Linked DNA regions of Homo sapiens: all the other regions are linked to region 2. Evidence: fine-mapped QTL for protein levels in blood plasma. A gene starts in region 2. Each other region holds a variant in brackets. All regions are shown on one strand. Distances are between the middles of the regions.

Region 1 (8,180 bases), 36 kb after region 2:
AATGCATATGGCTGGGCAAAGGGAACAGGGTGAGAGAGGGCTCAGGAGAATAAAAGAAACTGCTGCCCTCCTCTCCTATATGTATTCTATGACCTAGACTTAAAACTGATTACGGCCAAGTGTGGTGGCTCATATCTGTAATCCCAGCACTTTGGGAGGCCGAGGTGGGTTGATCATGAGGTCAGGAGATCGAGACCATCCTGGCTAACATGGTGAAAATTCATCTCTACTAAAAATACAAAAAATTAGCCAGGCATGGTGGCATGCTCCTGTAGTCCCAGCTACTTGGGAGGCTGAGGCAGGAGAATTGCTTGAACCCGGGAGGCAGAGGTTGCAATGAGCTGACATCCCACCACAGCACTCCAGCCTGAGCGACAGAGCGAAATTCTGTCTCCAAAACAAAACAAAACCTGATTACAGCACTTGATGTACTCACGTTTTAAAGATGGGGTCTCACTATGTTGCCCACACTGGGCTCAAACTCCTGGGCTCAGTTGATCCTCCTGCCTCAGCCTCTTGAGTAGCTAGGGCTACAGGTGCACTCCACCATGCCAGGTAGCACTTCATTTTTTTTTATACAGAGTCTTGCAGAATAAGTCACAACGTATGCTTAAGATTCTTTTTTCAACCTGAGGACCTGGCCGGGTGCAGTGGCTCACGCCTATAATCCCAGCACTTTGGGAGGCTGAGGCGGGCAGATCACTTGAAGTCAGGAGTTCGAGACCAGCCTGGCTAACATGGTGAAACCCCGTCTCTACTAAAAATACAAACATTAGCCTGTGTGGTGGCAGGCACCTGTAGTCCCAGCTACTTGGGAGGCTGAGGCAGGAGAATCTCTTGAACCTGGGAGGCTGAATCTTGAATCTCTTGAACCTGGAAGTTGCAGGGAGCCAATATCACACCACTGCACTTTAGCCTGGCTGATAGAATGAAACTGTGTCTCAAAAAAAAAAAAGAAAAAGAAAAACAGAAACACAAAATAAACAAAAAACAACTAAGGACCTAGAATTAAAGATGCTAACATTTTACCAATGTTACAAATGTGACTCTCTAATATATTTATTTTAAAAACAATCCTGCATTTTTTTTTTTTTTTTTTTGAGACAGAGTCTCGCTCTGTCATCCAGGCTGGAGTGCAGTGGCACGATCTCGGCTCACCGCAACCTCTGCCTCTCCGTTCAAGTGATTCTCCTGTTTCAGCCTCCCAAGTAGCTGGGATTACAGGTACCTACCACCACACCTGGTCTAATTTATGTATTTTTGGTAGAAATGGGGTTTCACCATGTTTTCCAGGCTGGTCTCAAACTCCTGTCGTCAAATGATCTACCCACCTTGGCCTCCCAAAGTGGTGGGATTACAGGCGTGAGCCACTGCACAAACCTGATTAATTTGTGTGACAGAAGTAGCATAGCATCCTTTTCCTGTCTATTTAAAGGTTTTCTTTAATTAATATTCATGCCCCTAGAATCTTTCATAATACAATTTTTAAATGGTCATAGTTCTTCTTCTTCTTTTTTTTTTTTTCTCGAGACAGAGTCTCGCTGTGACGCCCAGGCTGGAGTGCAATGGCGCTATTTTGGCTCACTGCAACCTCCACCTCCTGGGTTCAGGTGATTCTCCTGCCTCAGCCTCCTGAGCAGCAGGGATTACAGGTACCCACCACCACACCCAGCTAATTTTTGTATTTTTAGTAAAGACAGGATTTTGCCATGTTGGCCAGGCTGGTCCTGAACTCCTGACCTCAAGTGATACACCTGCCTCGGCCTCCCAAAGTGCTGAGATTACAGGTGTGAGCCACCCCATCTGGCCTGTAATTCTTTACTTCCCAAATTTTCTACAATGATCACGTATAATTTTTTAGATAGAGAAAAATATTTTTTTAAAAAGGAGTAAAGGAAACAAAAGTCAGTCATAAGACAACTGGCTCCTGAGTGGATATCAGCCTTGTCCATCCTTCCTGATCATACGACCATTTCCAAGATAGCTGTCCCTTCCCAGAGCAGTGGGATATTAATGGCGTGATGCCAGCAGTGCACTTCTAACCAGGGCACATTCTTTGGAGTCTGTGGAGTTTTTTGTGGCCCTAAGCAAGAATACTAACCTTTAGTGCCAGCCACATGACCTACATTACAGTAGTCAGGCAATTTATCTGGTCTCCTCTGGGGAATTAGCCCTGAGCCCTAGCTGACAGGGTAAGAGCCTGGCTTCCTGACAGCCAAATTGCCCATCTTTCTAATCTCATATTCTGGTTATTTTAATTAGATAATTAACCTGGCTCTCTATGTCTCTGTTCTGCTCTCTGCTCCTGCCCTACAATTCTGAAATGGAGCCTCCTTCAAATCCTGACATCTGTTCAGGAAGGGTCCAATAATGCAAAATGCAATAAAATGAGGCATATCTGTACATAGGTATATAGTTTCTGTGATAAACTTAATTTCTCAATTGGCCCTTTAAGATTCAGCTCTCTGGCGCCTTCCCTGACTCTGCTAGGCCGAAGTAATTCATTGATTTATTCATCAAACATGTACTAATTGCCTACCCAACATCAGACACTGTGTTAGGTAATGGAGAAAAAGAAGGATTAAGACAAGACAAATGCCTTCCAGGGATTCACAATCTAGATAAACAAAGAACTGTAATGGGGATAATCATAAAGGTATGCATAAAATACATACCACAATGGATAGAAGCCTGAGATCTGACTTGGTTCTTTAATGATGATTAGGAATTTGCAGAATAGATGTGAGGGACAGGAAGGAAACAGAAAATATTTTAGGCAGATAGAACAGCATGTACAGAGGCATGGAAGGCAGAAGCTATATCTTAACCAGCTCTGCTTCCCTAATTTATCTAGGATAGTGCAGGGCACATGGTAAGTACCTCTGAATGTTTGTTGAATGAATGAATGAATGAATGAGTGGCTGCTTTTGTTACTAGAGGCTTCTGTTTCAAAGGAGTGTTTATGCAACTCCAGTAAACTTTTTAAAATTTAAATTTAGATTTTGAAAAATCTAAACACAAACACAATTTACCATTTATTAAGCTCAACTCTCACCGATATAATACCCAAGCTAGTTCTCTATGAGATCTTTATTCAAAAATGTATAGACACGGAGGGGGAATGCAGTATATACCAACAAAGTGGCTGCCTGACTCACAGTAATTCCTTTTCCTGTAAAATGTCTCTTTATATAGGGTAGACCCCCAGCAGCCACATCTCTGCCTTTTTACCCTGCTGTCTCCCCCCTCCCCTATCCTGCCCCACCTACATAGCTGACTGATACAGGGGTAAACCATATGACCTGAAACTTGCCAAATCAGGGTCCTAAGAGAAATTAAGGGGTATTATGGGAGGCTTGGCCATGATATCAGCCAGGAAAGGAAACAGTTTGCTATGAGACAGAACAAAGCTGACTCATTTAGAAGTCAAGACAGAATCCTAGCAGTGTTCCAGTCCCTGAATCTACCTTCCCCATGGCTCAGCTGCACCCTGTCCTTCCAGTGGCTATGTAAATAACCTCAGCATCCTTCCAATAAATTCCTCCTTTCTGCCCTAGCTGGTTTGAGTTGGATCTCTGTTACTCGTAGTCGGAAGACCCAACTAACATAGGGAATGAAGACAGGAACTAGGAGGCCAACTTACCCAGGCTCTCTGTGGCTTCCACACAGATGCTAGGATACATGCCCTCAGTGTAAGTTGCTACCAGAAGATACAGATGGGTCTTCAC[G/A]ACAACCACACCAGTGTTCTCCTGTATAAAGAATATAAGAGAATATTCTGCTCTTGGTTCTAATCACAGGACCAGTGGTCATGCTCCAGCTACGTTTTTCACCATTTCCTGATTTCCATATGTTTGGAATATATATGGAATATACATATTCCGTATATATTTTCCATATGTTTATATATCTGTTTTTGGACTGTCCACTCTTTTCCACCAATTTAGTTGCCTTTCCTCAAAAAGTTTCAGACTGTTATAATAATGGTAGATGGATTTTGAAAAAGTTCTGCAATTGATTATCATATACCCCATCCCAATTAGAACAACTGATGTAGGCCGGGTGCAGTGGCTCCCGCCTGTAATCCCAGCACTTTGGGAGGCCAAGGCAGAAAGATCACCTGAGGTTGGAAGTTTGAGACCAGCCTGGCCAACATGGTGAAACCCCATCTCTACTAAAAATACAAAAATTAGCCAGGCGTGGTGGCAGGCGCCTGTAACCCCAGCTACTCGGTAAGCTGAGGCAGGAGAATCTCTTGAACCCAGGAGGTGGAGGTTGCAGTGAGCCGAGATCGTGCCATTGCACTCCAGCCTGGGCGACAAAAGTGAAACTCGTCTCAAAAAAAAAAACAACAACAAAACAAAACAAAACAAAACAAAACTGATGTAATGGAAAGGTCGTACATTTTGGAATTGGACAGCTCTGGGCTTGAATTCTAGTGCCTCCTTTTCTGCTGCATGAGTAAGGGTTATTTAACCTTGTTAAGCCTCAGTGTCCTCATCTGTAAAATGAGATTATTTAGTTTATAATGTGGATGAAGCAGCATGCCTAACCCATAATATAGGGCATCCAATGAATGATTTTCATCTCTTTCATTCCTTATAAGCAACAGAGAGCTGATTTTTTTTAAAATTTTTTTTTTGAGATGGAATTTCGCTCTTGTTGCCCAAGCCGGAGTGCAATGGCACGATCTCGGCTCACTGCAACCTCTGCCTTCTGGATTCAAGAAATTCTCCTGCCTCAGCCTCCCAAGTAGCTGGGATTACAAGGGCGCACCACACCTGGCTAATTTTCTTGTATTTTTAGTAGAAACAGGGTTTCACCATGTTAGCTAGGCTGGTCTTGAACTCCTGACCTCAGCCTCCCAAAGTGCTGGGATTACAGGTGTGAGCCACTGTGCCTGGCCACTGAGAAATGTTTTAAGCACAGAAATGATTATCTCTTTTTTTTTTTTTTTTAAAGGAGGATGTAGAGTATGAAGGTGGGACTGTATTGGAAAGAGTTCAGGCAAGGCTCAGTTAATAGATTCTGGAATGAACATTTCTCAAAACCAGGCTCTTGATAGGACTTTCTTTCACATATGTCTTCCTGGCACTAGACTGCTATCTCAAGACAATGGCTCAAGACATTAATGGATTTAATCTGTTTTACAGAAAGGATCAGGCAGAGCAAGGAAATTTGGAGGCAAATTCTTTTCTTTTACTCAGCTCTCTTCAAATCTTGAGCACTCACATTTTTGGCATAAAGAGAATATTCATCTGCCCGGACACATCTGTAATCTTTTCCCTTGAAATACAGTCCTTCTCTTCGGGCTTGCAAAGGGTTCTTGGCAAATCCATTCACCAGTGTTCGGACATCACTGGGCGTTACCTGGAGAGGTTACATGGTTAGAGCAGGAGTCAGCCAACTATGGCTGGTGGCCAGCCAAATTTAGCCCACTACCTGTTTTTTATGGCCTGCAAGCTAAGAATGGTTTTCATGTTTTTAAATGGTTGGGGAAAAAAAATCAAAAGAATAACACTTCGTGACACTTACAAATTATATGAAATTCAAACTTCAGTATCCATAAATATAAAATTTTATTGGAACACAGTCACATTCATTCTTTTATGTATGGCTGTTTTTCCTCTACAATTGCAGAGTTGAGTGGTTGTGACAGAGACTCTACGGCCCTGTGCTATAGTTTGAATCTCATGTTGAAATCTGATTCCCAGCGTTTTCGGTGGGGCCTAATGGGAGGTATTTGGATCATGAATAGACTGATGCCCTCCCTGCGAGCTGGGGGAAGCTGTGAGTTTTCACTGTATTTGTTCCAGGAGAGCTGGCTCTTAGAAAGAGCCTGGCACCTCTCCACTTGCTCTCTCTTGCTTCCTCTCCCCCACTGTGATCTCTGCACATGCTGGCTCCCCTTCACCTCTGCCATGAGTGGAAGCAGCCTGAGGCTTTCACAGATGACCAGTCTTCCAGGCAGTAGAACTGTGAGCCAAATAAACCTCTTTTCTTTATAAATTACCCAGCTTCAGGTATTCCTTTATATCAACAGTAAAAAGACTAAGCCTAGAAACCTAAAATATTTATGTAGCTCTTTACAGAAAAAGTTCATTTAAAAGTCATGTCTGGGCTGGGCACGGTGGCTCATGCCTGTAATCCCAGCACTTTGGGAGGCCGAGGCAGGTGGATCACCTGAGGTTAGGAGTTTGAGACTAGCCTGACCAACATGGTAAAACACCATCTCTACTAAAAATACAAAAATTAGCCGGGCCTGGTAGCGCACTCCTGTAATCCCAGCTACTCGGGAGGCTAAGGCTCAAGAATCGCTTGAGAGGCGGAGGTTGCAGTGAGCTGAGATCATGCCATTGCATCCCAGGCTAAGCAACAAGAGTGAAATTCCGTCTCAAAAAAAAAAAAAAGTCATGTCTGCTTCATTTTTTGGAAGAATAGAAATAATAAGTAAATCAAGTCTTAGGTCCAAACTTGTTTTTTCTTACATTGAAACCTGGTGATGCTACACACAAGCTCCGCTCCTGGATTTTGATGAGGGCTGCACTGTCCACATGCTTGGTTCCCAAGAGGGTGTCTAACAATAAGCTCTGCAAATGGCTCATGTTCCCTCAACTCTGAAAGGGAAAGTGCAGTTGAAGCCATTGACTCTGGCTAGCTTTTAAAAGGCATGTGAATACAAATGTCCTTAAGACACTGCAGACAGTTCTAAGATCAGCAAGTGTACTTTGAAAAGGTACAGGGTGAAAACGGTGGTCCATCATTCAGGGCCCACCAGTACCCAAAGAGGAAAACAGAATCATAGAAAAATCACAGCTCACACAGAATAGGTTATGAAGCTGAGTTTGGAAAATCACAGCCTGGTGATTTTCTGGCTATGTCAATGGTTTACATCAGGATTATCTGCGATTTAAAAACAAACATTACACACTGAGAAAAACTCTGTAAAATAAAAAATAAAAACAAAAAACAAAACCCAGCCAGGATGGAGAGCTACCCTGCTAAGTTAAACACGACTAAAAGAGATTATGCGTGGCCATAAACCCACACATTCCCTTCCCGGTGACCTGCATCAGCGCCAGCTATGAACGCTGATCAACATCCCAATGGACTAAAAACACCTTGAAGGCACTTAAACCCACATTTCCCGCACAAGTCCCCAAGCCTTGGACCCCCCTCATCAGGACCTCCGGCACAGGCGCCCGTTTCCCGCCACTGCCTTCCAGTGGTTTGGTCCCCGAGCAGGACCCAAGGCGGGGCAGGGGGTGGTGAGCGGTGAATTCCCTGGCACCGAGGACTCGAGGGAGCGGACGCCACCCCGCTCTGTGGTGCCCGCAAGGACCCGGCGACCAAGGACCCGACCGTCAACGGACGCGGTTGCGGGTGGGTGGCGGCGGCAGGATTGGCCGGGCCACGCGCCGGTCACCGAGAAGCAGCGACTCCAGCCCCTTCCGCAAACCAAGACCCGCCACCTAGAGCCGCCGCCCAATCCCCTTTGGGCCTGAAGCCGTCCTCCGCCGCCCCGGCACCGCCCGCGCGGACTCGCTGTGGAACCCGCGGCGCAGGGGGCGGAGTGCTCGCGCGGCGCTGCGTCCGGGAGACGGTGGGCGCCAACATTCGCGCGTTCCGCAGACGCGGGCGGGCTCCCTTCCAGCCGCAGTCGGACGGCTCCGGGGTCGTCGGGCCGGGCCCGAGTGTGTAGCAGGACGGCCGCGGGCCTGCTGGCCTTGGGAGGGCAGAGAGGTGCCTGTCGCGGCCGGCGACCTCCCCGCCAGGCCGGGCGGTCCCCGCGCACGACGCGCCTGCGCGGGAGGCCCCCGGCCCGGGGCTGGCGTGGAGGCCGCAGGCGCCCGGCCTAGTGGGTGGGAGGAAGGGCCGGGAGTGGGCGCGATGAGCGAGAGCGGGTGCGGACGCCTACGACATCCCCGTCGCACCCGTGCCTCGGGGAGGACTTCGAGCCGCTCAGAGCTCGAAGACTCGCGCAGTATGACCGAAAGCCCCTCCCTGCCTTCTCTAAGCAGCTCAGCCTGTGTTTCTGTGGCCAGAAAGTTGCAGTTCTTCCCACTCGAGGCCACCAAAGTCAGAAAAGTGTTGCAAATGGGACTCCGAGAGGCCAGGCTGAAGCTGCCACACTGGCTGGAATGGGCTGCCTTGGAGGGGGACGTGGGAATCCATTCCAAGGG
Region 2 (8,173 bases):
AGTACAGTCCCACTGACACCCAGGCACGATTGAGAACAGAATACAGGAGGCCCAACCTAGGCTAGTTGTTCACATAGAAGTTAGGAAGTGTCCGCACTAGGTTATTGGAATCATAGGCTTTCTAGCTTTGGTTTCATCTCTCCTTTTCTACTCACATAAAAAATGGAGGCCAGGCATGGTGGCTCATGCCTGTAATCCCAGTACTTTGGGAGGCTGAGGCAGGTGGATCACCTGAGGTCAGGAGTTCGAGACCAGCCTGGCCAACATAGTGAAAGCCCGTCTCTACTAAAAATACAAAAATTAGCTGGGCGTGGTGGTGCGCCTGTGATCTCAGCTACTCAGGAGGCTAAGGCTGGAGAATCACTTGAACCTGGGAGGCGGAGGTTGCAGCGAGCCGAGATCAAGCCACTGCACGCCATCCTCAGTGACAGAGTGAGACTCCATCTCAAAAAAAAAAAAGAAAGAGAAACGGAAAGGGATGAGCCAAAAATAGACACGTCTGGCTTTGGAATACAGAGGTGTGCACATCTACTTACTCATTTAGGGTGCTACCACCCAACCCTACCATGGCTGGCTCCAAACTGGTCTCTGCCTCCAAGCCTCCTGTTAACTAAGTGTGGAATGGCTGGTTGGGAAGAAAAGGTGCTGGATAATTCCAGACCAAGTCTGCATGGTCTAAAGTGTGGATGAATCTTATCTCTTGCAAGAATGCACATGGAAACCATCTTAGATTTAAATATGACTGCCTGTCTCCAGTGGTCAAATACCATAGTACTAGAATTTGGCCAGGGCAGCTGTTGTGCACTTAGCAGAGGTAAGACTGATACACAGCACTGGCAACTTTGAGACTGGTGGGGCTTTTATTTAATCATCTCTTAAATTCCTGCTGAACTGTAGAAGCAGTTGTTTACCTTTGGTGAATTTCAGCGTTGCTTCAGAGAAATCCTCTTTTTTGTAATTGAATCCAGCAGCTGCTCCAAGCTTTTCTGCCATTTGAAGCTTCTTCTGGGAGCCAGCTGTGACCAGAGGAATAGCTCCAGCCATCCGGGTGAGTTGGATAGCAGCTGTGCCCACACCACTCAGTCCTGCATGGATTAGCACATAGTCTCCAGCCTGAACATTTCCTGTGACAGAAAGTACAGGGTTCTCTTTACTTTGCAACTGCTACACATTCCCCACACAGGCATATTCTATCAAGATCACCTGGCCGTTGCACCAAATGCCAAATCAATCTTTTGCTTTTCCTTTTTTATTTGGTGGGGTGGGGGTGGGCTGGTGGGGGTGGGACGCTGTGACTCAAATACAAACCATCTTGTTCTTTGGAGAAAGAAAAAGAGCATATTGACGACCTTTTCTGTCTTATTGCCTCTGGCTAAAGTGGAAAACAGCCTTTTGAAACAGGGCTATAAGCAGCCACATCCATAATCTCTATTTTACCTATAACACCAAAATGCACATCTCTGACCTACACCTGAATAAGTAAGAACAACTACCATTCCCATGGTCACCACCGAAAGCCAGTCCTTCTAGAGTCTGAAACTGGCCTCCAGCTGGTCTTCCTGATCCAGGCAACACACAGCCACCAGGCTCCTCTTCCTAAGATGGCACTTGCATTATGTTACTTCCTCCTCAAAATGTAAAGTGCTTCTCCATTGGCTTTTGCATTGAGTCCAGACAGCTTGATATTCAAGGACACCATGATCTGGCTCCAGCCTCATTTTTCACAAATCACAATAGTCATCCTTCACTACTGAGTGCAGTGGCTGGTCTCACCTTGATACTGTTTTTTTTTTTTTTTTGAGACGGAGTCTCACTCTGTCACCCAGGCTGGAGTGCAGTGGCGCAATCTTGGCTCACTGCAAGCTCTGCCCCACCCCCCCTGCGTTCATGCCATTCTCTTGCCTCAGCTTCCTGAGTAGCTGGGACTACAGGTGCCCACCACCACGCCCAGCTAATTTTTTGTATTTTTAGTAGAGATGAAGTTTCACCGTGTTAGCCAGGATGGTCTCGATCTCCTGACCTCATGATCCACCCACCTCAGCCGCCCAAAGTGCTGGGATTACAGGCGTGAGCCACCACGCCCAGCCTACTCTTTCTTTTTCTTTGAGACAGAGTCTCACTCTACTGCCCAGGCTGGAGTGCAGTGGCATGATCATGGCTCACTGCAGCCTTGACCTTCCTGGGCTCAGGTGATCCTCCCAACTCAGCCTCCTGAGTAACTGAGACAACAGGCATGCACCATCATGCCTGGTTAATTTTTGTATTTTTTGTAGAAACAGGGTTTCGCCATGTTGCCCAGGCTGATCTTGAACTCCTGGGCTCGTGATCTGTCTTCCAAAGTGCTACGATTATAGGTGTGAGCCACCTTGCCTGGCTGATACTCTTTCTTAGGCCACCTTGGCATGCCTTATGTCCTTCACAAGTCTACCCACCCTTCAAAGCCTTCCAAAAAGCCTTCTGACTACCCTTGTCCACACCATCTTTACTCATCTCCAGCTTCTATCATAGACAGGGCTATCCTTCTAAACTCTATGGTCATCTGATCTTATGCATATGTTGCCTTCTCAGTTACACTGCACTGTCTAAAGGCAAGGACCAAGTCTTCTTAGATTCCCTTATGTGAGTTCTTGACTGGCCTCTGTGGGATTGAGGAGGAATAAATGAGTCAATTGGTCCCTTCTGTTGCACTGGGACCCCAGAGAGAAGCTCAGTATGATTCTAAGAAGCTGGGACTTCTGCTGGGCGTCCGGTGTTAACATGTACATAGGCCTCCTATCTAGTGTTATCCAGACCCTCTATCTGCTAACCATGATTCTCAGCCTCAACATTAAACCCTTCTAACATGGTTTGAGGACCTGACAATACAGGTGATACAGGAAGGCCTGGGAGTGCCCTGGGGGATTGCTGGGATTCAAGTTGGCTGATTTATGAAGGTGTTGAGCCACATTGTGTGGAGTGAGCATGGAGGCCTCCTCACCCACAAGATGTAACAGCTGGAAGGCGGTGAGCCAGGCCTCTGGGATGGCTGCAGCCTGGGTCAGGGTCAATCCCTCTGGGATAGGCATGAGGAGCCCTTCGGGGACAGTGACGTACTGAGCCTGGCCCCCACCGGGGAGCAGAGCCATGGCTGTGTCCCCGATCTTCCAGTGTCCCTGGCAGCCAGGCCCCAGCTCTGCCACATGTCCAGATGCCTCAAGTCCCAAAATGTTGCTGGCTCCTGGAGGTGGGTCATACTGGCCTTGTCTCTGCAGAGAAAGAAGTGCACTAAGTGGTGAGCATGATCAGAAATCTGTATGTCACTACCCCTGGCCCCCCTTCCAAGATCCCCTCTTTTTTTTTTCAAAAATAAATTTCAGAATGAAGTCAGGTTTTTGTAAGTAAGGAGAAGAAAAAGGAGAGGCCATTAGTTTTATGCAAATAAACTGGAGGTCACATGATCAGTGGATGTTATAACTGGTAGAGTCCTTAGCTATTTACCTCATCTGAACCCCTTGCTTTACAGATGGAGAAACTGAGTCCCAGACGGGAAATAATAGTAGTGGGATTAGGAACCTTGACGATGGTTCCCATGCATCAAGCGCTAGGCTCTGTGCTCACTCACCCCAGTCCTCAGAAGCTGTAGAGCAGAGGGACTTAACCAGGAGTGTGTGGCAGAACCACCTGAGGAGTATTTCAAAGTACACGTGCCTGGGCCCCCATCACGTTTCTTTTGTGCCCCGGGGGATTCTGATGCACATTTCTGAATGACCCCAACCAATGCAGCTGGCCCAGGTCAGTAAATCAGCATCAGACAGAAGAAAATTCTTAAGAGTACTGCCCGCTGTCAGCTCCGGGACTCTCAGAGTGGAAAGAGTTAAGAGGTCTTTGGAGCCACAAAGACCTCAGCTTGAATCCCAGCTCTTCTGATTGCTAGTGTCACGGCCTTGGGCGTACTGCTTAACCTCACTGAACTTCAGTTTCCTTATCTGTAGAATTAAGATGGCGAACAGGGTAGCCTGGGGAGTAAGTGTGCCCACACCCCACAACAATGTTAGTTCCGCCCTCATCTGGAGGCCTGAGTGGCTATGGATTAGCTCGGGGTGGATTCTGCTTTACAAGTACTCCCCCTTGTTTTGCATGAACAAAGAGGGCGCCCTGGGTTTAGGTCTGGGAAGCCCCAGCGCAGCTGCCTGCTGGGTGTGGAGCGGTGCACGCCTTCACGTCTGGTCAATGTCCACTGAGTGCTGTTGAGAGGGAGGCTCTGGAGTCCCGCCCGCCCCGGCGCGGCTGAGCCCTGGGTACCTGCATTAAGTCCGCCCGGTTCAGGGCGCTGGCCGCCACCTTCAGGAGGACTTCACCCTCCCCCGGGCTCGGCTTGGCCACCTCCTTCACGTAGAGGTTTTCCGGTCCTCCCGGCTTGTCAAAGTGCACGGCTAACATATTGTCTGAGGACACAGGGCAGGGCAGGGCAGGACAGGACAGGGCAGGGCAGGGCAGGACAGGACAGGGCAGGGCAGGACAGGACAGGGCAGGGGCCGCTGTATCCTCGCGGAGCAGCCCAGCCTCAGGCTGGCACCGCAGCGCCCCCTGCCGGCCAGCGCCTCGCTGCCCTGGTCTGCCGCGGACCCGGCCTCCGCCCCGAGCTCCTGCCTGGGAAGTCCTCGGCCGCCTCCAGACCGATCCCACCCGGAACACAGATGGGAACGGCGGGAAGTGGGATGGCGGTACAGGGCTGGATGCGGCAGAGCAGGACAACGCCGAAGAGGATCAGGCAAATCACACTCCCTCTGAGTTGGAAGCCCCCAGCCCGACCCGGGTCCCCGGCGCCCGTATGAGTTACTTACTCCTGGCCCGGCTCCCCTCCCATGCACCAGGCGGCGCCGAGTGGTTCTGGCTCCTGCGGGTCCCGGTGACAAAGCCCGAGCCCCAGAGCCCCAGGACTGCCTCTGCCTCCACCGGAATGGACGGCTGGACCTGGGGTAGCCGGAGGGGTGGGGCTAAGCAGAACCACCCTCCCCCTCTTTCCTTTCCTCCTTCCCCCTTTAAAACGCAAAGTTAGAAGCAAGCAAATCAGATTTTCTTGTCCTTTTAGCCTCTGGAAAAGAGTCTTTCTCTCAGCTTGACAGAAAGTGCGATTCTAGCTCTCACTTCAAGGAGAGGAAACTTCCTTCTCTCTAGGGAACGAGACCCAACCTCTTGGCGGGCGGATTGGTCCATTTTCCAGGCATGGCCAGGCTTTTGGCACATTTATGTAACAGGCTGGCATCCCGCCCATCTTGAGCATGGGTGGGCAAGCTGGGTGCTGCTAAGAGAAGAGAAAGGAGCCGTTGGGAGTGGGGGTGGGGAAGGAAGGCAAAACGCAGTCCTGGGATCCTTATCACTCGCCTCCTCCTGACAGTCCTGGGGGAGAGGTTCAGCCCCAGGAGAAGGATGCTGGCGATTGGGTAAAAGCTGTATCCGTAAGCTACATGAAGGTTTCTCAATCTCGGCGCTATTGACATTTTGGACTAGCTAGTTCGTTATTGTAGGAGATCGTCCTGTGCATCGTAGGATGTTTAGCAGCATCCCTGGCCTCCCCCCACTACATATCCGTAGCACTCCTTGTAAATTCCTGTTTTAGTAAGAACCTCCCATCCTTGACATCTGATCACCCTCAATATCTCATCCTCCACCATCCCCCAAGTGATATCCGACCACCCTGGCCTGTCTTCAGTGAGAATCCTGTTAGGTCAGTTTAGATAGAATCCCCCTTACCCCTGATGCCTCTTACCAATTTTCCATCCACTGACCCCCTACACTGCTCCTTGGCTATACATTCCCACTTGTCCGTGATGCATTCAGAGTTGATCCCAACCTGTCTCCTCCACTGCAAGAACTCATTGCAGTGGTCCCTAAACCTGTAGCGATGGTGCTAAATAAAGTCTTCCTTAATGTGCTTTAACAAGTATCATTGAATAATTATTTCTTTAACACAACAGAGCAAAAGCCTATAGAGATGGAAATAATAAAATGATGGGACTTAAGGAAAAATTCAGGAGACCCTGCTATGAGAATAACAGGAATTTTAGGCCGGGCGCGGTGGCTCACGCCTGTAATCCCAGAACTTTGGGAGGCCAAGGCGGGCGGATCACGAGGTCAGGAGATCGAGACCATCCTGGCTAACACGGTGAAACCCCGTCTCTACTAAAAATACAAAAAATTAGCCGGGCGTGGTGGCGGGCGCCTGTAGTCCCAGCTATTCGGGAGGCTGAGGCAGGAGAATGGCGTGAACCCGGGAGGGGGAGCTTGCAGTGAGCCGAGATCGCACCACTGCACTCCAGCCTGGACGACAGAGTGAGACTCCGTCTCAAAAAAAAAAAAAAAAAAGGAATTTTAGAAGGAGGAAGAGGAATGGATGAAGAAGATTCAATAGTTAACCAAATAAAAGAATACAGTTTTCCTAAATTCTACCAGATTATACGGATTGAAAACATTCACTAAAGGATGGATTCATAAGAACAAAAATGCATGCCTATATTTTATAAAATTTCAGGTTCTAACAAGTGTGGAAAGAATAAGTTACTCACAATTGGTTAAAAAAAATGGCTTCCTTCTCTCCCTCCCTCCCTCCTTCCTTCCTTCCCTCCTTCCCCACCCCCTCTTTCTCTCTCTCTCTTTTTTGTAGTGTAGGGGTCTCATTATGTTGCCCAGGCTGGTCTCAAACTCCTGGACTCAAGCAATCCTCCTGCCTCAGCCTCCCAAAGTGCTAGGATTACAAGTATGAGCCACTGTGCCCAGCAAGTTTCTATCTGCAATCTGGAAGCTAGAAGAGAGTAGACTAGCGTCTATTGACTAGAAGAAAAGCACTGTAACTCAATATACCCCATTAAGATATAATTCACTTGTTAGGGCAAAAAACATGTCTGAGGATGTATAAGGATTCAGAGACACATCATCCGGATACACATCTGTCCAAAATCGAGGAAAGGTTTGAACCAAATAAATATCCTAGAACAGAGACAGATGGAAAGGAAATAGTTGTAAATAACAAACTTTGCAAAAATCGACACTAAAACTGATTGGATTAAGAAAATGGAATGGATTAAGATAGATGAGGAATGTGTAATGTAAGTGCTAAATAAGAACTTTTAAGATGCAAGGAGTAACTTTAAAAAAAATCTAATAATACCAACCACTAAGTATACTAAAGTATCCCAGTAAAACTAGTAGTTGAAAGTGCCTAAGATTTTATCTTAGTGAGCCCTTGGTCGATGTAATCTTGCAGTGTGTAATAAGAAATATATATTTTTGGTCTTTGTCCTGGGTTCCTACAATAGCACTCCTAAAACCTTTGTTATTTGCTGAATAAACATCTCTTTCTTTCTTTTGTTTTTAACTAGATATACGGTCTTGCTACGTTGCCCAGGCTGATCATGAACTCCTGGACTCAAGCAATTCTCCCACCTCAGCCTGTAAAGTACTGGAATTATAGGCATGAGCCACTCTGCCTGGCCAATAAGTATCTTTTATTATATTTTGTTCTCCTGCAGAGCTCCTAAAACCCTTGGAATTTCGTATGTGATAGAAGTGACTTTTTATATTAATAACAAACCCTTATAAGCACACTCGAGTTTATGCTAATATGACTTAGGGTGGGGGCCCTAGATAGCTTCAGGATGAGCTGGTCACCAGAAAGACCCTGGGAAGGGGAAGCAGGGACTGGAGATTACACGCTATAAGAATTCTTTTTTGTTGTTGTTGTTGAAACTGAGTCTCACTCTGTTGCCCAGGCTGGAGTGCAGTGGCCTGACCTCAGTTCACTGCAACCTCCACCTCCTAGGTTCAAGCGATTCTCCTGCCTCAGCCTCCCGAGTAGCTGGGACTACAGGTGTGAGCCACCACACCAGGGTAATTTTTTTTTTTTTTTTTTTTTTGAGACAGAGTCTCACTCTGTCACCCAGGCGATCTCGGCTCCCTGCAATCCTCTCAAGTAGCTGGGACTATAGATGCACGCTGCCACGCCCAGCTAATTTTTTGTATTTTAGTAGAGACAGGGTTTCACCAGCCCAGGGTTTTGCAACAGTCCAGGCTGGTCGCAAACTCCTGAGCTTAGGCAATCCACCTGCCTCGGCCTTCCAAAGTGCTGGGATTACAGGCGTGAGCCACTGGGTCCGGCCCATTTTTGTGGTTTTAGTAGAAATGGGATTTCTCCATG
Region 3 (8,156 bases), 100 kb after region 2:
TTCCTGTAGGAAAACGACATTCCATAAAAGAACTTGAAGAAATAGAGAAGGCCAGGCTGCATGCCAGCTCGCCCTACTTCACTTTCACTTCACACTGTGTGATTCCAAAAGAGTGGCATAAAGCCTCTGCAAGAGCCAGGAGTAAAACTTACAAATACAGGTACAGATGAGCAGAACAAACAAATATTTGTTTAACTTGCAACTTACTTTATTTCCTACTGAAGCTCTTGTAACTAGTCACACTTTTGTCTTTTAGTAGTTTATAGTTTTATTATTATTATCATCACCTTTGTATTATGAAATATATGTAGAGGACAGAATAAAACATAAACAGCTTACCGAGTCCCTGAGTCAGTCCTGTGGAATCACCAGCCATTTCAAGAAAGGGAGCCTGCCCCCTCCCGAGACAGTCTTCTCCCTGCCCCAGAGCTCCCTTCACTTTATAAGTGTTCACCTCCTTGCTCTCCCTGTGGTGTTATCAACTAACTTTGTATCCTTAAACAATATAGTTTATCTTGCGTATTTTTGAATTTCATATAAACAGAACCTGAAAGCATTTATTCTTTTATGACTGACTCTTTAAAAAACATCTTTATTAAGATATAGTTTACAGGCCGGGCACGGTGGCTCACACCTGTAATCCCAGCACTTTGGGAGGCCGAGGCAGGTGGACCACCTGAGGTCAGGAGTTTGAGACTAGCCTGGCCAACATGGTGAAACTCCATCTCTACTAAAAATACAAAAATTAGCTGGGCATCATGGCAGATGCCTATAATCCCAGCTACTCGGGAGACTGAGGCAGGAGAATCGCTTGAACTCGGGAAGCAGAAGTTGCAGTGAGTCGAGATCATGCCACTGCACTCCAGCCTGGGCAACAGAGTGAGACACTGTCAAAAAAAAAAAAAAAAAGATACAGCTTACATACCATAAAATTCATCTGTTGAGGGTTTGTACATGTACAGTTCATTGTGTGACTGCTTTTGCTCACCATTATGTTTTTCAGATTCCTTTCTGTTGTTGCATATAGCTCCAGTGTATTAACTTCTGTTTTCTGATTATATTCCATTATATTTGACTATGCCATCATTTAAGCAATCCACTGTTGTGGACATTTGGGTTGTTTCCATATTTTGGCTATTATGAACAATCCAGTTTGGTATTTTCGTTTCCACAATCCACATTTGTTATTTATTTATTTATTTATTTTTGAGTCTGAGTCTCGCTCTGTCGTCCAGGCTGGAATGCAGTGGTGCAATCTCTTAATTTTGATATAGTCAAATATTTATAACTAGTGCTTTTTATACATTATTTTAAGATGTCTTTTCCAAAAGCTGTATGGCCTTTTTTTTTTTTTTTGAGATGGAGTCTCATTCTATCGTCAGGCTGGAGTACAGTGGCACAATCTTGGCTCACTGCAACCTCTGCCTCCCGGGTTCAAGTGATTCTCCTGCCTCAGCCTCCTGAGTAGCTGGGACTACAGGTGTGCGCCACCACACCCAGCTGATTTTTGTATCTTTAGTAGAGATGGCGTTTCACCATGTTGGCCAGGATGGTCTTGATCTCTTGACCTCAGGTGATCCACCTGCCTTGGCCTCCCAAAGTGCTGGGATTACAGGTGTGAGCCACCGTGCCTGGCCTGCTTTTATAGTTTTGCTTTTCAAATTTAGGCTTATAATACAGTTAGAATTGCTTTTTGTATGTATTTTATGTGGGGCCCAATTGAATTTTTTCCCTTTAATGATACCCATTTTCCTCAGTACCATTTATTGAAAATATCATTTCCCTGCTGTTCTGCAGTGTAGACTTTTATACAAATTCACTGCTGTTATGTATACTTAATTTCCAGGTTCTCTATCCTAGCCTATTTGTTTACTATAGCTTTTTAATGAGTTTTGATACCTGATAGAACAAATACACCAATATATTTTATAATTAGCTCAAGTTTCATGTAGACATACACACATACAAACAAATAAAAAAGTAATGGCAAAAACCACAATTACTTTTACACCAACCTAATACTTGGGATTTTGATTGGGATTGCATTGAATCTGTAGATCAATTTGGGGAGAATTGACATCTTTACAATTTTGAGTCCTCTAATCCATGAACATGGTATATATCTCTCCATTAGTGTGGGTCTTATTTTATGTAAAGGAGTGGTTCTTAATCAAATTGATTAAGAAGCTGGCAATGTTTGGAGACATTTCTGGTTGTCAGGGGCATGGGGTTCTACAGGCATCTACTGGACATAGGGCAGGGATGCAGCCAAATATCCTACAACAAAGAATTACTCAGCCCCAAATGTCAGTAAGTACTATGGATAAGAAACTGTCTAAAGGTCTTGTAGATCTTTGTTTAGATTTATTCTTACTTATTCCTATTTTATTATTATATATAATTTCATTTTCTAGGTAATTGTAATGTATAGAAATAAAAACGATTTCATATGTTGAATTTGTATTTGGCAACCTTGCTAAACTTTATTATGAATTCTGACATTTCATCTATAGAGTCTTTTGGATTTTCTATGTACACAATATTCTTTTTATTTTTTTGAGATGGAGTCTCGCTCTGTCACCCAGGCTGGAGTGCAGTGGCATAATCTTGGCTCACTACAACCTCCGCCTCAACCTCCTGAGTAGCTGGGATTACAGGTGTGCACCACCACACCCGGCTAATTTTTGTATTTTTAGTAGAGATGAGGTTTCACCATGTTGGCCAGGCTGGTCTCGAACTCCTGACCTCAGGTGATCCACCTGCCTCGGCCTCCCAAAGTACTGGGATTACAGGTGTGAGCCACTCTGCCCAGCCCACAATATTATCTTCTAATAAAGAGAATTTTATTTCTTGTTTTCCATTCCTTATACCTTTTATTTCTTTTCCTTACCTTACAGTACCAGTTAAGATCTCTGGCACAAAGTTGAAGTGGTGAAAATTGGCTTCATTGTATTCTTCTTAAACTCAAAGGGAAAGCTTTTGGTGTTTTTTGTGTTTTACATTATTTTTAGATTTCCATTAGTAAGTTAAGGAAGTTCATTTTCTTAGTTTGCTATCAGTTTTTTTTAGATAATAGATTTTGACATATATTAATTTTTATGCATTTATTGATATTTAATTTTTTCTCCTTTGTTAATGTGGACATTTTTATTTTATTTTATTTTATTTTTTGAGACATAGTCTTGCTCTGTTACCCAGGCTGGAGTGCAATGGCATGATCTTGGCTCACTGCACCCTCTGCCTCTCAAGTTCAAGTGATTCTCCTGCCTCAGCCTCCTGAGTAGCTGGGATTATAGGCGCCCACCACCACACCTGGCTAATTTTTATATTTTTAGTAGAGAAGGGGTTTCACGTTGGTCAGGCTGGTCTCAAACTCCTGACCTCAAGTGATCCGCTCACCTTGGCTTCCCAGAGTACTGG[G/A]GGATTTACAGATGTGAGCCTCTGTGCCCCGCCTGTGGAAAATTACACTGACTCATTTTTAAAATATTTTATTACAAACATTTTCAAATGCACTGAATGTAGAGAGTGCAACACATTCCTATGTACCTATCACCCAGGTTCAGCAGCCATCAACATTTTGCCTTTCTCTCTCTCTCTCACTTTACCCCACTTTCCCTTTTGTGCTCACAGTTTTGTGGGAAAATTCTAGGTCTCATGTCATGTCATTTATACTCTACCATGTACCTCACAACAAATAAACAACAGAAATATTGTTTACAGTTTTCATAAATGTGCATCTGCTCATGAAAAATCTGTTTGCTTTAAGACATCTTTATTTCCCTCCTTTTTTCAACTTAACTTTATTTTTCGTAACAAATTTTATGTTCACAGCAGACGTGAGTGGAAAGTACCTAGAGAGTTCTCGTACACCTCCTGTCCCCCAACAAACACAACCTCCTCCACTGTTGACATCCTGCACCACAGTGGTACAAACTACATTGACATTATCACCCAAAGTTCATAGTTTACATTAGGGTTCACTCTTGATGTTGTACATTCTATGCGTTTTGACAAATGTACAATGACATGTATCCATCATTCTGTTCCAGTGTCACACAGAATAGTTTCACTGTCCTAAAAATTGTCTCTGCCCATTCATCTCTCTTCCCCACTAACCCCTAGCAACCAGTGATTTTTTTTTTAGCTGTATCCATTGTTTTGCCTTTTACAGAATGTCATATGGTTGGAATCATACAACATTTAGCCTTTTCGGACTTCACCTTCATTCTTAAAGGATGTTTTCAGGATTAAGAATGTTAGGTTGGCAGTTATTTTCTTTCAACATATATCTTGTTGTCTTTTACTCTTTCAATTGAGAAGTCACTTGCTAGTCTTACTGTTGTTCCTTTGAAGGTAATCTGTCTTTTCCCCTGGATGCTTTTATGATTTTCTCATTGTCTTTGATTTTTTGTAGTTTTATGTGATGTTTCTAGATGTGGATTTCTTTTTATTTATCCTACTTGGAATTCATGGGTCTTCTTGAATCTGTAGGTTGTCTTTAGTTAGTTCTAGGAAGTTTTCAGTTATTTTCTCTTTGTTCCCTCTGCCATATTCTCCTCTCCTCTCTTTTGGGTACTCCAGTTAAACATATTTTAGATTTTCTCACTGATCCCCTGTCTCTGATCATTTTTGTATATTTTCTATCCTTTTTGTCTTTCCATGTTTGGTTCCAGATATTTTATTATCTCTTCTGTTGTGTCTGTTTGTTGTTAAACCCATCCTTTGAATTATTATTTTCAGTTATAGATCTAGAATTTCTATTTGATTTTTTTAATTTTTATTTTTAGAGCTGGCATACATGTGCAGATTGTGCAGGTTTGTTACACAGGTAAATGTTTGCCTAGGTGATCAACCCATCATCTAAGTATTAAGCCCAGCATGCATTAGCTATTTTTCCTAATGCTCTCCCTTCCCCCTCCCCACCCCTCCTTGATTCTTTTTCAAATAGGTTTTGGGAAATGCTGTCTGTACTCGGGGCCTGGAGAGTTTCTGTCCTCCATTGAGAAACCAAGCACATTGCTTGACTTGCCTCTTAGCGGGAGGGTGATGTTGAGAACAAGGTTAAATACCCACCTGTCAGGACATCAACCAGACCCAAAGACAAAAATCCACCAAAGATGCTAGAAGCACAGAGAAATCAGTCTCTACCTTGGTACTTAATATTGGTGACCTGGTACTTGAAATGCTCCCACAGAGGAAGGTAAGAGTTGGAGATTGTCAACTCATTCCTGAAGGCTCTCGCCTCTCTGGAATTCTTTTTAAAGCTGTCCAGTGATTTTAAAATTCTTAATTTTGGTAGTAAATTTTCTGCTTTTTCTTCTCTATTTATTTCAGCAGGACTTTTAGCCTGTGCAGACTTCTATATTCTACACAAACAGGAGGTCTGTTATACACTCTCAATATTTTGTTTTCATTCCCCATCCTGAGTTTTGTTGGAATAAACAGTGCTACTTTGTTTATGCTTACCCTAGTGATTTGGAAGTTTTATGTATTATTTCTGGTTTTATGGTTCCTTTATCATTTTAACAAACATTTTTATTTAAACACCAGTAATTACATAGCCCCCCCACCCCCACAACAAGACAAAGGCTTCATGTTGCTTTGTTGGCGTCATCTCCCCTCTGGCTCCTCCGCTGGTATTCTTCCTTCAGGCTGGTCTCCTCCAATCCATTTTTCGCCCAGCAGCCAGAGTGGTCTTTTTAAAGTGATCAGCACTCCTCCACTGGAAACCCTTCAGTGCCATTCCCCTTATGACAAAGCCCAGGCCCTCAACATGGCACATGAGGCACCATCTGGGCCCTACCACCCTTTCCGGCCTCATCACAGAAGTCCCATCAACTTAAATAAAAGGAAGATTGATTAACCATGAAAACCTCTGGGTCAAGTCAGCACATTCTTAACTCCCTGACCTGCCAGGCTGTTGCCTGCCTTTGCTCCCTCTGTCTGTCACTGGCCATTCCAGTGCAGGCAAGAGGGCAGTTATCACAGGGACACAGAACTCTCCAGCCCCTTACTGGCCCTTTCCTCCATCAGCAAGCCCCTTGAGGGCAGGGACTGCATCTTACTATCTTGGTGGTCCCAGCACTTAGCTGGAGCATAGTAGATCATGAATAAGTGGTTGTTGAATGAATTAATGGAGGAAGAAAAGAGAAGGCTTATTTCCCTCAATAGGGCTAGGCTTCCTGGGGCAGAAATGGTGGCAGCCCTGGTGAAATTCCTCCGGGAGGACACACCCAGAGGATGCCTCGTGTGGCTATTTGATGAAGTAAGAAAAGGACTTGAGAGCACGTGGCGAGGTGAGGCAGAGACAGTTTGATGACAAAAGCCAGAATCCTTCTCAAAGGAAAGGCGGGAGGGGGCTCGATATGTTAGAGAGCATTGGTATGTCATGGAAGCCAAGCCAGGAAGGGAGCCAGGCTGCTCGGGGGACGGACTGGGAGGCTGGAGCCAGGCGCTCGGGGGACTGACTGGGAGGCTGGTCCCTGCCTCTTTGGGGCTATGTGGCACTCACCATTACTTCTCTTCGTGAACCTGCTCTGTTTCTCTTTCTTTGCACATGGGCTTTCTGTGCTTTCCTGTGAGTGCTGGCAAGTGGAGGCGCCGTTCTGCCTGACTTTCTGGTTTGAGCACTCAGAGGCTGCCTGGAAGCCCCTTTGTCCCAACTACAGCCATAGGGATTGAAGCTCTGGACCTGGTGCCTCAGCCATGGCTGGGGAAGGGTCCCCAAGTCACCACCTCCCTAGGAATTGGGCCAGCAGAGGTACGGACAGGGCAGGCAGATTGAGGGACAGCCACCAGTGATGGCTGGTCAGTCGTTCCTTCTCAAAAGTGACGATTGAGTTCATTGCATTAATCTTCGGAAACTATTTGATGGTACAATTCCATCTGTGCTGAATCGAGACAATTTTTTCTGCTTTTCTTCACAGTCCTGAAAAGCTCATCTATGCAGACAAGAAACAGAAAAGAAAAGAGAAAAAGACGGCCGACCTAAGTCAGGCTGCGTTTGAAAGGCAGTTCCTTTCCTCAAAGCTCAGCCAGAAGAACAAAGTGGGTGAAAGAAAGGGTCTGGTGAGCAGAGGCCTGGGGCGGGGCTGGCATGCAGGGCTTTGCAGCACCCACGAGCAGCACATACTGGTTCCAGAATGAGCCACCGCCACAGCCCTCCCTGTCAGACAGGCACCCAAGGGCGGAGGAGGCATGGCCCAAGAAGAAGGGTGTGAAGAGGAGGAGGGAGAAATGGCGGTGGCCTCAGGCTCAGCACTGCAGCTCTGACAGGGCCCCTCGGGCGGGGAAGCCTTGCATGAAGAAACTCAGACAAGTGGTAAATGTGGGACCTGGACCCCACTTTCCGGAGACATCCTGTCCTTCCGAGGTGAGGGCCAACCTGGCCACAGGGGCTTTTCCCCCTGAGATTTCTTCAGCGCCTTCGCCCGGGCCTTTGCCCTTCTGCCACTTTCCTACCATTTTCCACTTACTCCATCCAAACTGCACCAAAGATGGTGTTCTCCTTAGTCCACACACAACTGGTGGGAAGTTTTTGAAATGAAATTTATACCAAAAAATTAGGGCAAGATGAGATTTTTTGATATTTAAAAGGTATTTTTATATGTAGGAATTTTCTGAGTATGGATTTCTTATCCAGAGCTCATGGTTCATTTGACACAGTTTTCAGCTCCTGGTCTATTTCCCCTTCCATTCTCTCCGCCACGCCCTGTGCCCTGAGGCCTGAGGCGCAGGACCCTCCCAGGGAAGGCCTAGGGGGCTTGGTGGGCCACCGCTCAGCTCAGGACCTGACAGCGTCACTCCCACCCTCACCACCACACACACAGGATGGGGGACTGCTGCTGCTTTCCAGCCTGTGAGCCTGGATAGGTATTTTGTGACCCAGCTCCTGCTCAGTCCCATCGCTGTCCCCGGTCTCTCCAGGGAGTAAGGGATTCTCCGTCTGTGGTAAGTTACCTGTGACTCTTCAGCAGTTTCCTCTGAGCATAATTATATCTGAGAGCACAGGGAGCTCCTCATTCCATGTATTTTTCAAATATTCAAGATGTACAACGTGATGATTTGCTATAGGTATTCATTGTGAAATGTTTGCCACAGTCAAGCTTGTTGACATACCCACCAGCTCACATTTACTGTTTTCGTGTGTGTGGTGA

Which allele goes with the higher level. Alleles are on the strand shown, and positions count from the first base shown. The strength of an association depends on the size of the effect and on how common the allele is. Not every link is listed here.
With allele A in place of G in region 3, the plasma level of the protein whose gene starts at base 4,927 in region 2 is higher (moderate association).

Evidence for each region. A credible set is the group of variants that fine-mapping cannot tell apart. PIP is the chance, under the fine-mapping model, that this variant and not a neighbour inherited with it causes the effect. The UK Biobank Pharma Proteomics Project read protein levels with antibody pairs (Olink). The fine-mapping took linkage between variants from a reference panel, not from the people measured, so its PIPs are less certain.
Region 1: its variant is the best candidate, but not a certain one, in a credible set for the plasma level of the TP53I3 protein (UK Biobank, PIP 0.59).
Region 3: its variant is the best candidate, but not a certain one, in a credible set for the plasma level of the TP53I3 protein (UK Biobank, PIP 0.66).

The regions. Positions count from the first base shown.
Region 1 is chr2:24,115,934-24,124,113 of GRCh38, forward strand. PFN4 (profilin family member 4) reads right to left here and starts at 7,401. Exons shown (of 5, transcript NM_199346.3): 1 at 7,185-7,401; 2 at 6,486-6,614; 3 at 5,230-5,367; 4 at 3,644-3,749. The coding sequence starts at 6,602. It overlaps FAM228B (family with sequence similarity 228 member B), which reads left to right and starts at 7,536. Exons shown (of 11, transcript NM_001145710.2): 1 at 7,536-7,600. RefSeq lists a silencer at 7,468-7,967 and an enhancer at 8,038-8,180. The variant G/A (reference allele first, on the strand shown) is at 3,729.
Region 2 is chr2:24,079,908-24,088,080 of GRCh38, forward strand. It overlaps TP53I3 (tumor protein p53 inducible protein 3), which reads right to left and starts at 4,927. Exons shown (of 5, transcript NM_004881.5): 1 at 4,282-4,927; 2 at 2,978-3,245; 3 at 912-1,124. The coding sequence starts at 4,419. It also overlaps a transcript of FAM228B not described here. RefSeq lists enhancers at 2,639-3,569, 4,165-4,264, 4,415-4,464, 5,212-5,712 and a silencer at 4,475-4,654.
Region 3 is chr2:24,183,486-24,191,641 of GRCh38, forward strand. It overlaps FAM228A (family with sequence similarity 228 member A), which reads left to right. Exons shown (of 6, transcript NM_001040710.3): 5 at 10-160; 6 at 6,927-8,156. The coding sequence ends at 7,146. Among named protein-coding and RNA genes, the nearest start is that of FAM228A, 13 kb to the left of the region's middle. The variant G/A (reference allele first, on the strand shown) is at 3,421.